Regions from separate parts of the Homo sapiens genome. Here region 2 is linked to region 1. Evidence: fine-mapped expression QTL. Tissue or cell type: tibial nerve. Region 1 holds a variant in brackets; the other region holds the start of a gene. All regions are shown on one strand. Distances are from middle to middle.

Evidence for each region. PIP is the estimated chance that this variant, and not a neighbour inherited with it, causes the effect.
Region 2: it holds the start of FOXP4, and the variant in region 1 is fine-mapped to the expression of FOXP4 in tibial nerve (GTEx, PIP 0.91).

What each region holds. Positions count from the first base shown.
Region 1 is chr6:41,496,923-41,505,096 of GRCh38, forward strand. It overlaps LINC01276 (long intergenic non-protein coding RNA 1276), which reads left to right and starts at 5,522. Exons shown (of 3, transcript NR_120347.1): 1 at 5,522-5,689; 2 at 5,881-6,051. LOC112267957 (a long non-coding RNA gene) reads right to left here and starts at 8,079. Exons shown (of 3, transcript XR_002956346.2): 1 at 7,325-8,079. RefSeq lists enhancers at 5,727-6,474, 6,475-7,222, 7,926-8,025. The variant G/A (reference allele first, on the strand shown) is at 4,020.
Region 2 is chr6:41,542,294-41,550,467 of GRCh38, forward strand. FOXP4 (forkhead box P4) reads left to right here and starts at 4,088. Exons shown (of 17, transcript NM_001012426.2): 1 at 4,088-4,574. FOXP4-AS1 (FOXP4 antisense RNA 1) reads right to left here and starts at 6,328. Exons shown (of 2, transcript NR_126415.1): 1 at 6,085-6,328. RefSeq lists silencers at 2,098-2,392, 3,435-3,704, 4,035-4,714, 4,785-4,964, 5,255-5,404 and an enhancer at 3,775-3,884.

The DNA.
Region 1 (8,174 bases):
GAGGAAGGGGAGATTCTATAAGAAAAACAGCCTCCTACAAGTCCAAAACTTTTTTGACATCTTGCATCTTATCTTAAAAGCCTATGAGCTTTGAATTTTACTCCATAGTATAACTATGTGTATTATAAATTAAAATAATGTTTTAAATGTCATTTTAAAATGTTCCCCCAAAATCTTGAGATAAAATGGAAGCTCCAAGAAGGTGTGCTAAGTTTATTCTACTGCTTCCTCTGTCCTCTGCGGTAGGGGCCAGGGAGGGAGAGAGAGGGTGTTGTTGTGGACAGCCTTGTCTACTTTTGATAACTACAACCCTTTCTTCATTGAACCCCTGCTCCTCTCTTCCATGCAATTCTGTGGGGCTGCCAATTACAACTCCCCAGCTCCTCTGGCCTCAGGGTGGGCCCATGAGCCAGGTCTAGCCAATTGTCAAACATAACTTTCTTGGACACCTGATTTGTCCAAAAGGTGGGCACATGACCCAATCTAGGCCAAAAGGAGCTCTTCGCTAAAATGTTATAGATGGAGGGTGCTGGGAATAGCAAATCCTCTCTTTCTTCTGAGATGTGAGCATGAAATTGCTGCCAGGCTCTTCTACCCACCTCTCTCTGCCCTCCAGCAGATGAGAGAAGTCTTGACCTCCCTCTCCCTCTCCACGCCCCAACTGCAGTTAGAGAGGAAGATCAATTGCAACAGGAAAAACAAAACAAAACAAAAAGATGAGGCTATCACACACCAAAAAGCATAGCCACCATATGAATGAGATCAAGAAAGAATGCAAGAGAGAAAGCTGAACATATCTTTTGAGGCATGGCAGTCCCTAAACTTTGCCCCCTGCCCCAATGCATGTGCATGCACGTGCATGCACACGCACACACACACACACTCCTATCCTTCCTGGTTATTTGAGCCAATAAATCCCTTCCTTTTGCTTAAACTAGTTGGAGGTGAATTTCCATCACTTGCTCCCTGAGCAATATCTCCTGGCACACTCAGTCCTACTTAATAACTCCCAGCTCCCAGCACACTACAGCCCAGAGAAGGAGCAAGGGCCCAATGGAGTTTGGAATTGGGAAACTCAAGTTATATGTGGAGAAGGTGTCACACTCTCCTACCAGGAACCTTCCAAAGTTCTCCCTCACAGAGCTTTGGGCTGGAAAGGACCTCAAGCAGAGGGCTGGCAGGGAATCTATCCCAACTAGCTCTCTGCCGCCTTCAAAGAAGCCTGACTCAGCCTCCTGCCTTGGAAACCCATCCCAGGACCTCCTGTCTGAGACATCGCAAATCTGTCCAGCTTAGTCAAGCCTGTTTCACCTTCTCCTGCCCTAGTGGAAGCTGGACTATAGCCAATCCCTCCTCTCCTTTTCCATTTCTTCAGAGGCTCAGCCCACTCTTCTCTTTACTATTCTTTTGCCCTTGTTAGTGTAGGTTCATGCATGTTGTGTGTACTAGTTACTGGCTAAGAACACAGGCTCTAGACAGACTGCCTGGGGTCAATCCTGGTTCTGTTCCTTCCTAGCTGTGAGACTTTTGGCAAGTTGCTTACCTTCTCTGTGCTTTGGTTTCCTCATCTTCAAAATGAAAATGATTATATGAATTAATGTATATAGAGTACTTAGAACCATTCCTGGCACATAGTAAGTGCTCAATAAATACTCGTTATTATTGTATGTTAATGCTGTGTGTGTGTGTGTTCAGCCCCTTTCCCAGCTGATTGGGAGTTCCCTGAGGACAAGAAACATACTTTATTCATCTTCAAAGGCCCAGGGCATCAAAGTGCTTGACATAAGAGAGGCAGCTCAAAAAAAATGTATGTTGACTGAATGAATGATGAATGAATGAAGATTGGTTGGCTGAACACTTAGAGAATTTAAGTCCTGATTCCTGTCCTTAGGTCTCTCAATAGTCCCACATGGGTACCCATCAATTCTGCCTACATCTGAACCCAGAGGGGAGGTTTGTCAGGCAAAAAGGATCTTGCAGCAGAGTAACAACAGAAGCAAGAACAACCAGCTCTGCCCTGTGTACACCCCTTAACAACAACCAAGGCTCTGTCACAATGCCACACATCACTGTGAGGTAGACAGAGCAAGGGTAATCCTTATCCCATCTTACAGATGAGTAAACTGAGGGTTAGAGCAGTAATGTGACTTTCCTAAAGACAGACACAGCTAGCTAGTGGCCCAGCTGAGGCCACAGCCCCGTCACCAGACTTGATTAGATCTCTGTCAACCACATCCCAGCAGCCAAATGCTCCCTCCTTTTGCCCTCCTGCGGGGCCACGCAGCACACACCACAACCCCTTGGTCCACTGTGGTCTAGGCAAGAGCAGAAGAGTCCAAAAGCAGATGACTATCATCTTCCATTTGTCTTGGTATCTATGACCACATCTTCCATATGTCTCAATATTTGTACAGCCTAGTGGGAGGGTTGTAGAGAGTCCAGAAGTGAAGGCAACTCCAGAGCACACAATGGTCCATTGTGCCCCTGTATCCCCCTTCCCTTCACCACACCCAGCACACAGCGTCCTGTTTACCTGCCTCCAAGGCCTGGCTCCATCTCAGGTGCCACTCCAACTGGGCCCACGCACAGGCATTGCCAAACCCTCTGCCCACGAGCCCTAGGCTTGGCAGTGATGCCCTTCTTGGGGATTCCCCCCAGCTTTTGTCCCACCCCCAGTCCCTTCTACCCCAACACAGACCCCTCCTCTTGGCTCATAGCACAGTACCTGGCACACAGTAGTTCTCTGGAAATGGTTCCTGACAGTAAGTGGTTCCTTAGTGACGATCATAACCTCAGGCCCATCTGTCAAGGGGTTCTCCCAGCTTCAGAGGTGGGCGATGGCATTGTGAAGGAGGTGGGTTCCAGGGCTGAGTGTCAGCTAGACTTAGAAAAAGTTTCCTGTCCCCTTCCCTGAGCCTGGGACTTTGGGGGGAGGGCGGCGAGGGAATATAAAGCCTGTCCATCTCTAGGGACAGAAGACCCATATTAGGCACTGTCTTGGTCCAGCTGGGATGCCATTCTCCCATTCTCTCAGAAGTCAGAAGTCAAGGGTCAGGGCACCACCAAGGTCTTCAGGGACAGAAGCCCAGGCAAGAGGACAGATGGAGAGGTCTGCTCCTCAGGCCCAGATTGTGTTTGGGGGTCAAGAAGCCGGGTAGAGGTGGGAGGGGAAAGCTGCCCAGGAGAAAGTTAAGCATCATCAGTTCATCCACATACTATTCACACGCTGGGACAGAATAAGAGAGAGAAAGAGAGGAAGATAGCTGAGGGGAGCAAGAAGGGAAAAAGACAGGGACACCACAGTGAAAAGCCAAGAGGCAAGGCCAGGCACGGTGGCTCAAGCCTGTAATCCCAGCACTTTGGGAGGCCAAGGTGGGCGGATCACTGGAGGTCAGCAGTTCAAGACCAGCCTGGCCAACATGGTGAAACCTCATTTCTACTAAAAATACAAAAAATTAGCTGGGCGTGGTGGCATGTGCCTGTAATCCCAGCTACTCGGGAGGCTGACACAGGAGAATCACTTGAACTCAGGAAGCGGAGGTTGCAGTGAGCTGAGATCGCTCAACTGCACTCCAGCCTGGGTGAGAGTGAGACTCCATCTCAAAAAAAAAAAAAAAAAAAGAAAAGAAAAGAAAAGAAAAGAAAAGAAAAGCCAAGAAGCAGATGGGAAATGGGAGAGCACAAAACCACACCTCCAGGTAAGCAGGCTCTGGCAAGGACGATGAGGTTCCCCCAGCTGAAAGAAGAAGCAGACATCAAACACAAAGGCTGCAGAGGAGCATGGAAAGCATCCAGTCCAACCTACTCATTTCACCTATAAGGAGTCCAAGGCCCAGAGAGGGACATGTCTTGCCCGGGGTTACACAGCAAGTCAAGACTCAGCCCAAACCAGAGTCACAGAATGATGGCTCCAGGCTAGAAGACATTTCTTGACTTTCTACTGAGCAGAGAAAAGGGGGCTTCAGAGGGTCATACTCTGCCTGACTTCTGGAAATGTGGGAGCAAGAAGAACAGCCATC[G/A]TGGCCCACCCAGCCTATGGCCAGGTATCAGAACAAAGAAATGGAACATTCAGGCCCACTGCTTGTCTACCTAGCAGCACTTGAGCCAAGGTTTGATGGGCTTTCTATTGTACCCATTGATTTATTCCACCACTTACTCTATGTGCCTAGCACTGTGCCAGGCCCTCAAGTTGAGGAGGAGGACAAGAAGAGGGTGGCAAGGAGGCTACAAGCTAGTTTATTCGAATACTTTGAAAGAAGGCTAATTAAGTGGACATTCAGTCAGAGGTTGCTGTATGCCAGCTGCTTGCCCCATGTTACTGTGTCAGAGACTCACAAGGCAGTTCCTACTGTTAGTCCCATTTTTTCAGATGTTGACACTGAGGCTCAGAGAGACTAAGAGGCCCTAGGTCCTACAACTGATGTGGCAGAGCAGGAAGTTAAACCACACCATTTGCTCTTAACCATTAGGCTGTACGGTCCCCCAGGATGGGCTTTAAGAGCTACAGTGATGAGGTTACCCCCACCACACTGTGATCCATCACAGCCCCCCTCTTTTTTTTTTTTTTTTTTGAGACAGAGTCTCACTCTGTCACCCAGGCTGGAGTGCAGTGGCGCAATCTCAGCTCACTGCAACCTCCTCCTCCTGGGTTCAAGCAATTCTCTGCCTCAGCCTCCCGAGTAGCTGGGATTACAGGCACCCGCCACCACACCTGGCTAATTTTTGTATTTTTAGTAGAGATGGGGGTTTCACCATCTTGGCCAGGCTGGTCTTGAACTTCTGACCTCGTGATCTGCCCACCTCGGCCTCCCAGAGTGTTGGGATTACAGGTATGAGCCACTGCACTCGGCCAACACCCCTCCTTCTATCCCAGCCAAGGTGAGTCAGTCCCTCCTCTGAGGCTTTTATAAATGCCTCCCATGGCCCCTTATTTTTGGCCTAGTCTTGGAATTAATTGTCAGCATGTCTGTCTCCCTGGCAAGTTGGAGGGCAGAAATGGCCTTTGCTCAGCTCTGAACCCCCAGTGCCTAGAACAGTGTCTGGCATATGGCAGGTGCTCAATAACTGGTTATGGAAGGAGTATAGCTGGGTAATATGGTATCCCCATATGAACAGAAAATAAAACCCAGTAGAGGCTTAGGTCCAAGGGAGGGGCAGGAAGAGAGTTTCATTAGTCTCCAAATGTCCTGAGTCTAGCACACTGCCTGGAATATACTAAATGCCCTCATAAGTGCCCTTTGGAGTGAGTATGGAGGGTGCTCCAGATACGAGGCTTCCATGGGCCTAGAGGATGGACTCAGGAGGTTTGAGACTGCATTTGGATTGCGGCCAGAACTCAGGGCCCCATCCCAAGAAGTTTGAGGCCCAGCCAGACCACCATGAGAGCCTGCAGAGGACTGGGGTTCAGGGTACTGGGGGCCTCTTTTAGGAGTGCAGGCTGTTCCTGTGGACTCTGCCAGGGCTCAAAGCTGCGGACTGGGGGGTGGGCTGGATCAGAGTGAACAGGAGCGGGCAGGCTGGAGTTGGGACACATTCTCCAGCCTCTTCTGTTTGCAGGTGCCTGAGGACACCTTCAAACCTTCTCTGCTCCGTTGTAGAACTTTTTCCAGCAAGGGGGAGAGGAAGGACAAAAGGCTATGCCTTGGGCTCCAAAGTTTAGGAGAGGAGCCATGGAGATGGACAGAGAGAGGTGAGGAGAGAGAGACCCAGGAGGCCTCTGGGAAGGGAAGGGAAGGTTGCTGAGGAAGGAAGTCTGCACTTGGGGCCAGCCCTGCCTCTGGCACCAGCCCCACTGGGCCAGGGTCCCAGGGATTTATTGACTAATCCTCAAATGATACACTTTCCCTGATTTATTCTCTCTCCCGCTTGCAATCTCACAAGATCCCATTGTCTCTGGACACTGCTGGCCAAGGGCCTCCACCTCAGGAGCTGCTGCCTCTCATCCACTTCCGGGGCGAGGGTAATGGAAGCTCCCTACCGCCAAGCACCACGACCCTCCCCTGCCTTCTCCAGGCCTAAGGGTCAAGCTGCCAGGCCACCAGGCAGTGCCAGGTACGAGGATGACAACACCTAGCCAACCCGCGGAGAAGGCGGTGAGCTGGGTGACCTCCTGGAGCTGCAAGAGTTTGTGCCTGCTGAGGCCTTGCTCCACCGAGTCTTGGGGGGAGGCAGCTGGCGGGTGGGGGCGTGGCTGCCAAGGAAGTGGGTGTCGGGTACTGGGCGGGGGACAGAGCTAGGTCACAGTCGAGGTTTTCACTGACCCGAGTGGGCGGGGGTAAAGGGAATTCGTAAAAAGTTTCTTTCTTCATTAATGGCCTTTTTTCCCTATCCGAGAGCCTGGGCGCGGGAGGGAGCGAAGACGGCCGGGGGCAGGGCAGGCCCTCCGCAAGTGACACTTAATTCCCGGTCTGGACTGGGCCGGCGCTTGAAAGCAACTAAATTAGCAAAACAGAAGTCAACTGTCGATTGCTTCATTGGAGGATTAAGTGTGATAAATGGGGGGTTTGTTCGCTCTCCGGTCCAGATGTTGTGTCTAAGTAAGGGTTTTTTCAAAAAAAAGTTTTTTTACATTCTTGGCCCAGGGCCCATATATATTTTGGATACTGCTGGGAGTATATAATATCATTGGAAAATGATGCGGTCTGCTAACCTTTTAAATAACATTTCCTCCCTCCTCTATTTTCTAATAGTTTGTTTTTCTTTCCATGTTTGCCTTTTATTGGGGGAAATTTTTTTTGGAAATTAATGAGGCTCAAGTTTGGAGACCAAAATAAAAAAGGGGTGGGGGAGTGTGAGAGGTGGATGGGGTGTGGAATGAAGCTGGGTGGAGGGAGGGCTACTCTTTGTGTGTTTTAAAGCGCTCCTGGTTTGATTTTTTTTTTCTTGTAATTTTCTCTGCCGAGGCTGCCCGCGGCCCTCCGGCGGGGCTGCGCGGTGGCGCGCGCGGGAAGGGCGCCCGGGACTCTCCGCCGCGCCGGGCACCCGCTCGCCCTGCCCGGGCCGTGGGGCTGCGCGCCGCTGGCCTCCGGGAAGAACCTGCCATTCCCCCTGCAGCCGAGTCCGACGTGAGAGGGGGTGGGGGTGGGGGCGCCTCCTTCCTGAGTGAAACCTACGGAATCCGGCAGGAATTCGGGCCTCCCAGATTTAAGAAAACAAACAAAGGAAAGATTGTCAGAGAGGGGCCGCCAAGAGCCGCCGGGCCGCCGCACTGCCCTCCGCCCTCACCCCCGGGGCGCCCGGGCCTCCCAGCGGGGGCAGAACGCGAGGCTGGGGGGCTCCCCCGGGTGGTCCCCGGTGGGCTTCCCTGCCCTGGGTCTTGACTAACCTGTGTTGAGTCATCCTCCTGTCTCTAGAGCTGAAGAGGCCCCAGGGCGCATAGGAAAGGAGGGTGCTGCCGAGGTGGCTGCCTGGGGGCGGGCCCTACAGGGGTCATTTGGGGCATCCCCTGCCTCTAGGCAAATCCCCACGGAGCCCCATCCCGCACCCTCCCGCAGTGTCCAGGGCGAACCCCTGTCCCCAAGCCCAGGCTTAGGAGTGAAATCTCGACGGCTCAGGTTCCTTCTCTACGCAGTCCCCCAGCCAGACTAGGAATGGATCACCGCGCGGGTGGGCTCAGTTCCCGGCTTCGCCCGGGTCTAGGAAGAATGATAAAAAGTGAGAATGTAAAGGGAGGAGGTACTATAAAACAAAAGGGGTTAGACACCCATCAGGCAGCTGCGACCCGGTGGTAAACATGAGCGTCTCCTGTGCTCCCACCGCCTGCGTTCTTCCCGGCCGCGTCCACGTTGGTTTCCTTCTCGTTGTCTTGGTCTCTCCTGATTCTGTTCTCGTGTCAGTCTGCCCTGCCTCTGTTACTCCAAATCTCTGTGGTCTCTCTCCCTCTCTACCTTCTCTGTCTCCTTCTGAATCTGAATATGGCTCAGTGCTTCTGGCTTTCTCTTTGTCTCTGAAGCTATCTCTCTGAGAATGTCTCTGTCCCTTTCTGTCTGCCCCTCTTCGTGTTTCTCTGTCTCAAGCTGACGCTGTCTCGTGGCCTGTCTCACTGTGTCTTCTTCTGTCCTCCTCCTCGTCTTCCTCCTCCTCTCCTCCCTCCTCTCTCTCCCTCCTTCGTACCCCCCCCCGCCCCACTATTCCCCTCCATCTCTCCACCCTGCCCCCGCCTTAGGTAGCCCAGC
Region 2 (8,174 bases), 45 kb after region 1:
TAGTCACCTATTCCATTGTTGACAGCTGTTGTGAATAGTGAGCACATGCGAGTAGATGGCCTAGCATTCTGGTGTATGCCTTTTGGTGAACATATGTACATATGCATTTTTATTGGCATATACTTAGGAGTGGAGTGGAGTGGAGTTACTGTATTATGCTGATAAAGTGGGTTTTATTTTTGTTTTTTGTTTTTTGAGACAGAGTTTCGCTCTTGTTGCCCAGGCTAGAGTGCAATGGCACGATCTCAGCTCACTGCAAGCTCCACCTCCCATGTTCAAGCGATTCTCCTGCCTCAGCCTCCTGAGTAGCTGGGATTACAGGCATGTGCCACCACACCTGGCTAATTTTGTATTTTTAGTAGAGATGGGGTTTCTCCATGTTGGTCAGGCTGGTCTCAAACTCCCAACCTCAGGTAATCCACCCACCTGCCTCGGCCTCCCAAAGTGCTGGGATTACAGGCGTGAGCCACCACACCTGGCCTATGCTGATGAAGTTTTATTCCTCAATAACTAAAAAATAGTTTTTGGCCAGGTGTAGTGGCTCATGCCTGTAATCCCAGTACTTTGGGAGGCCAAGGCGGGCAGATCACTTGAGGTCAGGAGTTCGAGACCAGCCTGGCCAATATGGCAAAACCCCATCTCTACTAAAAATACAAAAATTAGCAGGGCATGGTGGCATGAGCCTGTAGTCCCAGCTACTCGGGAGGCTGAGGCAGGAGAATTGCTTCAACTCAGAAGGCGGAGGTTGCAGTGAGCTGAGATTGTGCCATTGCACTCCAGCCTGGACAACAGAGTGAGACTCTGTCTCAATAATAATAATAATAATAGAAACATAAACTGTCTGGGCTTAGGTTTGTTGGGACCATGGGAATGAAGCAAATGTTTCTAGATGTACACACCACTACCACCCCAACCTACTCCTGAGTATCAGGCCTGCTGCTAGGAACAAGCTCATCCATCAGCCCACTTCACCTCCACAATAGGGTGGCGGCTGACCTTGGGAAAGGGCGTCTGCTTCAAAGCAGGAGACCTGGGAGCAAGTCCTCGCCACACTACTTCCTAGCTATGTGAACTGAGCAAGTCATTTGACCTCTCTTAGCTTCACCTGCAGAAGAGTCACCATTGCTGGGGTGATAAGCTGAACAGCACGTTATTCGACTGCCTGGCAAGCATTTAATAAGTGGCAACTCATGATTTGCAGTTTTGTGAGGTCAGCATTCGTCATTTTAAGTGAGGACCCTGGAGCTCATCAAGGGGAAAATAAGTAATTATGGAAAGCATGTGAGGAACACATTACCAGGCTAGAAGTTTTGCCCATCCTCCCTCCCAAACACCCAAGGAGGCCTCCCAACCTCCCAATTGATGAGTGAGGTGATGAGTGAGTTAACTGAGACTCAAACATCATGTAACTTGCCTGGGTCACACACTGGTTAAGTGACAGACGCTGAAGTTCAACCCAAGGCTGCCTGACTCTAGCCCCTGTGCTCTTAACTATGGCCCCCCTGGAGGGGCCAAGCCATGAGCCTTGGTTCCGGCCACCGCCAAAGCACCTGCACCTGCCCTGAGTCCTGTGAAGGAACAAGGACAGAAAGAGGACCCTCCTGCCTGCTCCCGGTCACTCCCACTTTGGAGCCAAGGGCTACTCTTTTCAACCTTCTTAACGAAGCTCTTGCACCAGGAAGAAGGGCTTTGGACTGGCTTCTTTGATTTCGGGGCATTTGTTCTGTATCTTTCTTTGGGGAGGCTTTGTCTTCCTCGCTAAAATGCCCTTTAGGTGAAGACAAGACAGGGTCTTTTGATGCCTTGAGCCCCCACTGTAGCTCACAGGGAGCTGGGAACTGAACTGGCCTGGAGATGAGGGGTAAACTGAACTGAAAGTGAAGCATTTCCCAGGGCAATCCCTCTGGGCAAGTGAGCCCATGTGTAAGGTACAAGGGCTGCTGCAGGAAGGGGATGGGAAAAACATTCAGTGAACCAGCCAGAAAAGGGCTGGAGAAGCCCCTCGGAGGTCACCTCATTCAATACCCCCCTACAGAAATTCTCTCTTTTGTCTCCAAAGCCCCTAGTTCTCACCCCACCCTCAGCCTTTGCTGCAAGAAGGATAGGAAGGAGAACTGAGGACATAGTCACTGGCCCAGCTGGTCTGACACAAGGACTTGCCACTCCAGGCTTGGCCTAGGGCTGTCCACACACCATGATTTCCACCAGAGCTGGGCCTCAACAGAAGGTAAATCAGATAGTACTACCAAGGGCTTTCTTTCTCCCAGAATATCCTTCCCCTCAGCTAACCCACAAGCAGGCAGTGTCGCTTCAGAGACCACCATGAGCTTCTTTCTTGTCCTCACTGAAGTGGCTCTAGTTGGAATCTGGCTCATCACTGACCAGCAGCTGTGTAAGCCTGGGCAAGTTACTTGATCTCTTTGTGCCTCAGTTTCCTCTTCTATAAAATGGAGATAATACAAATATCTCCCTCCTGGGGTTACTGTGAAGATTAAATGGCTGGTGGGTGGTACGACTCAGATGTTAGCTGTTATTTTATTCTTATGGCTATGGTTATCTCAGTTGCCACACTGGAAAGGACACTGAGATATCCACATAAATGGCACTTAGAGTCTTCCCTGCACAATTTCACACCTAGAAATCTAAAACGCTCCAGCAGGACCTAAGTATGCCTGTCCCACCTGCCCAAAAAGGCAAATACATAAAATGTGGACCTGTGCAGGTGTCACTAACATTGCAGAAAAGGGACAGAAGTGATGAAAAACAACCCAAGAGGGTGCCTCCTCTCTGAGGTCCCCTTTTCTTTCAAGGACCACTGGAACGGCCAAGAAATCCCCTCCCCCCAGGCAACTAAGCATCAATCCTTGCAGCTCCGACCCCACACCTCAGGCTTCCAGCTCCCACTCCACAGGGGCTCACATACTATGCCAGCCTCTTGTCCACCTGCCTGAGGATTTAGGGCCAGGAGAGGCTTCAAGAGCCACTGTCTTCTTGTCCTGATCCCACAACAGGATCCTCCCTTGGTCATGGGGACCCGGCATCACTGAGCTGGGTTGGGGTACTTCATGAGGACCCCTGAGGCCTCCTTCACTTCTCCCCACCCCCAACACATGCAGACAGATGGGAGATGTTTCCGGCGTGTGTGGGGCGGGGAGGGGGACGGGTATTGAGATTTCCACGGGACTCTGAGTGGTGCGTCTGCTAACAACACAGCCCTCCCCCTTGGGCCGTGGGCATTTCCTCACCCAGACCTCCCCCTCCCAACCCAAACACACCATCGCCGCCACCACCACAATCCCTCCAGTCCCCCTGGGCAAAAGCGATGTTCAGAGACGCGGGGTTTTGTTTACAATCTAATTTGTCCGGATAATTGCCTCAACTTTGCACTTCACTTTGCCCGCATGGCTCTGGCCTTGGGCCCCTTCTTCACTGGTTCGCAGAGCACTTTACGGGAAATTCCCTTTCCGCAGAGGGAGGCAGTGCGCGCCAGGGGGTGACCGTTCACAAAGCCCTGAAGGGGCCTCCCCACCTTCTACCCTCGGCTCAGGAAGCCCACCCCCAGCCCCCACGCAGTGGGGAGCAGGAGGGAGGCCAGACAGGGCCCGGGCCTGACACTGGCTCCGTCTCTGGGCCCCCGGCCACTCCCCGCGCCGAGCGCAGCCCGCCGGGAACCAGTGAACCGTGTGGGATCAGGACTTGGCCGTACCTTCAGACTCCAGGGGATGGCCGGGGTTTGCAAGCGCCCCATAGGATTAGTCCGAGGCCAGGGTGAATCCCTGGGGTCCCTCCACCTACCATCTTTTTCAGATCTGCCGCCTCACGTCTTCTCCCCACGTTCCCATTTTTCCTCCCCTAAAGTTTGGTGCACGTGGTTTTCTCTCGCTCTCAGCGGGCTGCCAGGCGGGGTGAAAGTTGCTGCACCTGCTTTAGGCGAATTATGGTAGCACTAGAAGTTGGTCTCCCCTCCCTCCGCCGCTTGCTCTCTCGCTCCCTCCTCCCTCGCTCTCCGCGCGCTCCCTCCTTCCCTCTCCACCCTCCTCCTCCCCCGCCCCCTCCCGCCCCGCCCGCGCGCCGCCCGCTCGCAGCCACTCGCAGCCCAGGCTCAGTCGCAGCCCCTCGGAGTCCGGAGCCCGCCGTCCCTGCGGACCGGACAGTGCGGCCGGCGGCCGGCGGCCGGGACGGAGCCCCCAGCCCGCGAGGAGGGCGCGGCGCAGGCGGCGGCGGCGCGGCGGGGAGGAGCCCGGGCCGGAACCAGGGCTGGGCCGGGGGCGGGGACGCCGGGGTCCGGGAGCCCGGGAGCCGGAGCGAGCTGACGAGCGTCGCGGAAGGACCGGGAAGGAAGAGCGGAGCCGGAGCGAGCCAAGCAGCCCACAAAGTGCCATGCCCCGGCGGGGTTGAGGCGCGCGGCGGTCGGCCCGGCGCGCTGGGAGGACGCCCGGGAGCTGCGCGACGCGGGGCGGCGCGGAAGGGCAGCCCCGGCGGGCGGCGGCGGGCCCGGGCTGCGACCGGAGCGAGCCCCATGCCCCGCGCGGGCTGACGGGCCGGAGCCCGCACGGAGCGGCCGGGCGGGACAGGTAGGTGGCGGGTCGGGCCCAGGGACGTGGGTGGGGGCTGGGCGGGCGACCAGACCAACTCCCTCGCTCGCGCACTCTCTCGCCCGCTCGCTGGCTCACTTTGTGTTTGCAAACTGCCCGCCCGAGACGCGCTGGGCGCCGGGCGCCAGGAGGAGCCGGGCCCGGGCCGGCGCACTTTGTTCCAGCCAGGGCCGGCCGTGGCGCACTGACCCCGCGCAGCCGCGACATTCCGCCCCTGGCCCGGGCCCCAGCGGGCCGGAGCTGCCTCGGGAACAGGTGGGGGCTGTGGCGCGGCGGGAGTGGGGGCAGCCGGAGGCCGGGGCGGGGAGGGGGGCGGCCGGAGAGGCCACCGAGGCCCGCCCTTCCCCAAGAATCTGGGCCCCGCCCCCTCCCCGCCGGGCCTCTGGGAATGGGGTGTACGGGGGCGCGACCCCCTCCCCGCCCCGAGTCAGACAAAGAATACTTCCCGGCCCAGACTTTCCAGAGCTGGGAAGGGAAGTGGCTCCCCCCAACTCTAGTCGGTACCGGACTCCCCAGGACGCGCCGGAGACAGATGAAAATGGGGGCAAGAGAGCGGGGGATCGCGGTCCTACCCGCCGTGTCGTCTCTGGTGAAGAGGGGACTTGTCTTGCTGAGGTCGCACCTCGGAAGTGCCAGGGCCAGTCAGCCCCTTTTCCATCGCTCGGTCAGCTCGGGGATAGAGCGGAAAACTTCTTGGGGACTTGAGAGCGTCTGGAAATGGCCCCTGTGATTTGTGCGCCGGAGGTGGAGGGTGGGGAAACGATCTGGCTGACACCTCTACTCACCCGCTGTGGAGAGAGCTCCCGCTTCACCACTTAAGGGGGGAAGAGAGGGCGGCCACGGGGGCCCGGAGGCCACCAGGGAAGGAGCCCGGAGTGACCGAGCAGGACCCCCCCCCGCCCCAACTGAGGAGTCTGGTATCTCCCCTGGACAACCCCAGCACCTCTCTGACCGGCGGCGCTTCAGCCTCGGGCTCCTCATCCACGCCAAACAAACTTCCTTGGGCTGCGTCAGAGCACAGCCAGTGGCGCTAGAATGCGACCTGGGGTCCCGGCCGCCCCCATAAAGGACCGGGTAATTTCGCGGAATGCGGATTTTGAGACAGGCCCAGACGGCGGCGGATTCCCTGTGTCCCCCAACTGGGGCGATCTCGTGAACACACCTGCGTCCCACCCCGATCCTAGGTTGGGGGGAAAGGGTATGGGAACCCTGAGCCCAGAGCGCGCCCCGCTCTTTCCTTTGCTCCCCGGCTTCCCTGGCCAGCCCCCTCCCGGCTGGTTTCCTCGCTCACTCGGCGCCTGGCGTTTCGGGCGTCTGGAGATCACCGCGTGTCTGGCACCCCAACGTCTAGTCTCCCCGCAGGTTGACCGCGGCGCCTGGAGCCGGGAATAGGGGTGGGGAGTCCGGAGAACCAAACCCGAGCCTGAAGTTGCCATTCGGGTGACTCCCGAGAAAGCCCGGGAGCATTTTGGCCAATGCGGGTTTTTACCTGAACTTCAGCATCTTCACCCCGGTTTCGGAGACCTGCCTAGATTCGTCCCAGCACGCACTGTTTCGGGTTCGGGATTGAGGGTTAGGGCAGCACACACAGCTTGAGGGGCAATTGTTAGGACTGGCCCGAGTGCCCGCAGAAAGAAAGAGCAGCGGGGTTGTCGTATGGCCTGTAGCTGCGGGAAGGTCTGTGCCGGTCCCACTGTCGAACCCAGAAGCTCACTTTCCACAGAAAACCAGGGCTGAAGGGCCCCCTGACCGCCATGCCCTGCGGGCACCGGGCATTTTGAGCTCTCCCCCACCCCCTCCCCCTGCTGCGAACCAGCCGGTAGGTGCAGGGGCCGAAGGCCAGGCCCAGTGGACCCAGCCGCCTGAAGGGGAGCCACGGCCTCAGAAAACCTCTGCCCGCCCCCGCGGAAAACCGCTGTGGGGAAGTCTGAAGGCCTTTTTTTTTTTTTTTTTTTTTCAACTTGAGAAACTTTTGCCTCGGGGTTTTGGGGCTCTGTTACCTGGTGGCTGGAGGGAGGATACTGGGGCTCTGCTCTTGGTACCTGGACAGCTTGTTGGCTCCCATGGTGCCCTTTCGATCTGAAACTCAAAAAACTGTGAGTTGGGGGAGTCACTCACACTCTAGTCAGTGGGGCAAGGTGGCAAGGGGAAGAGGTGGTTTTGTGGTTGCCCCCTCTCAGCCTCCACACCCAGGGCCAGGGTGAGCGCTGAATCTCTCCTGCGGGACGGGACCCTCAGGACCCACTTTATCCTGGCTCCAGCCTTGCTACTAAGTTTGGGAGACCATGGGAGCCTTCTCTCCTGGCACCAAGGGCTGGGCGCCTGGGTGGAGTTTTCTGTCCTTCTCCCTGTCCTGGACAGGTTTCCCAGGAGTTACGGAGTTGGGGAACCCCTGAGCCCTGGAGAGAGAAAGACCTGACCCCAGTGCTGGAGAACGCCAGGGCCAGAGCATTTGCAAAGGGTCCCACTTGCAAAGGGACCTGCTCCTGTCCCTTTCTGTGTAGGGATCTTCCTCACACCTAGACGCCCCCAGCCCCCTTCCTCTGCCTTTAGAGCCGAAAACTTCCGTTCTGGCTGTAGGCAGGTAGGTCCCTTCTTGCCAGGAATGTGCATATCCTGCTGGGCCCCTACCCCAAACATACCTCTTCCTTGGTGGGAGGGAAGCAGAGGGACTGGGAGAGGAAGGCTTGCTTTTGATCCAGTAATTCCCCCAAATGTTTGCTGAGCCCCTACTCTGCCTGGGCAGGTCCCAGGCTGAGTACTGGGGTACCCAAGCAGTGAAGGCTGGGGTCTGCTGTCTGGACCTCAGATTGTTGGGGTAGGAGAGACAGATATCACATGGTGGGGGGGAGGGTGGAGGGGAGAAGAATGGGAACAGGGTGTCTGTTTCAGAGGAGAGTTGTGAGGTGCAAGGGGAGGGAAGGGTTGTCTCCCCAGGAAGCCTTCCCTGCATCTTAACCCTTCCTACCCCACTGCCTTGGCGGTTTCCTGTCTCTCCAGCCACAGTGCAAGCCCCCCAGTCCCATCCTAAGCAGGCACAATGTCTTTATTTTTTGAATAGCCTAAACTGTGTGAAATAATAATTTCTTCCATCCAAGAAACTCCTCACAGTTTCCCTTCTCACAGATCTTACCACGCTCCAGCTTCCCTAGACCAAGGCAGGGCAGGTACTATTTTTGACAGGACTCTCAGGCTCCGTTGGCTGGAATGACCTCCTCAGATTTGGTTCCAGAACTCTGGAACCCAGAGCAAGGAACTGAGGCCTCCCCAGGGCAGAACATGTGTCAGAGTGGAAAAGGCTTTGGAACTTGGCATTAGAGATGGGACTCTGGAGAACTTAATTAAGCTCTTCGAACCTCAATTTTCTTACATTGTAAAGTAGGTCATAATACCCACCTTAGAGATTCTGTTTGGGAGTTAGATGAGAGAGCAGATGTCAAGTACCTTGCACGGTGCCGGGTGCATGGTAGTACTGATCAAGGGATGGCGTTTATTATTAATTTGCTAGCACTGCCAGGCCACATGTTGGTTGAATATGGAAATACTGAAGTATTAATCTTCATTTTATGGGTTGGGAAA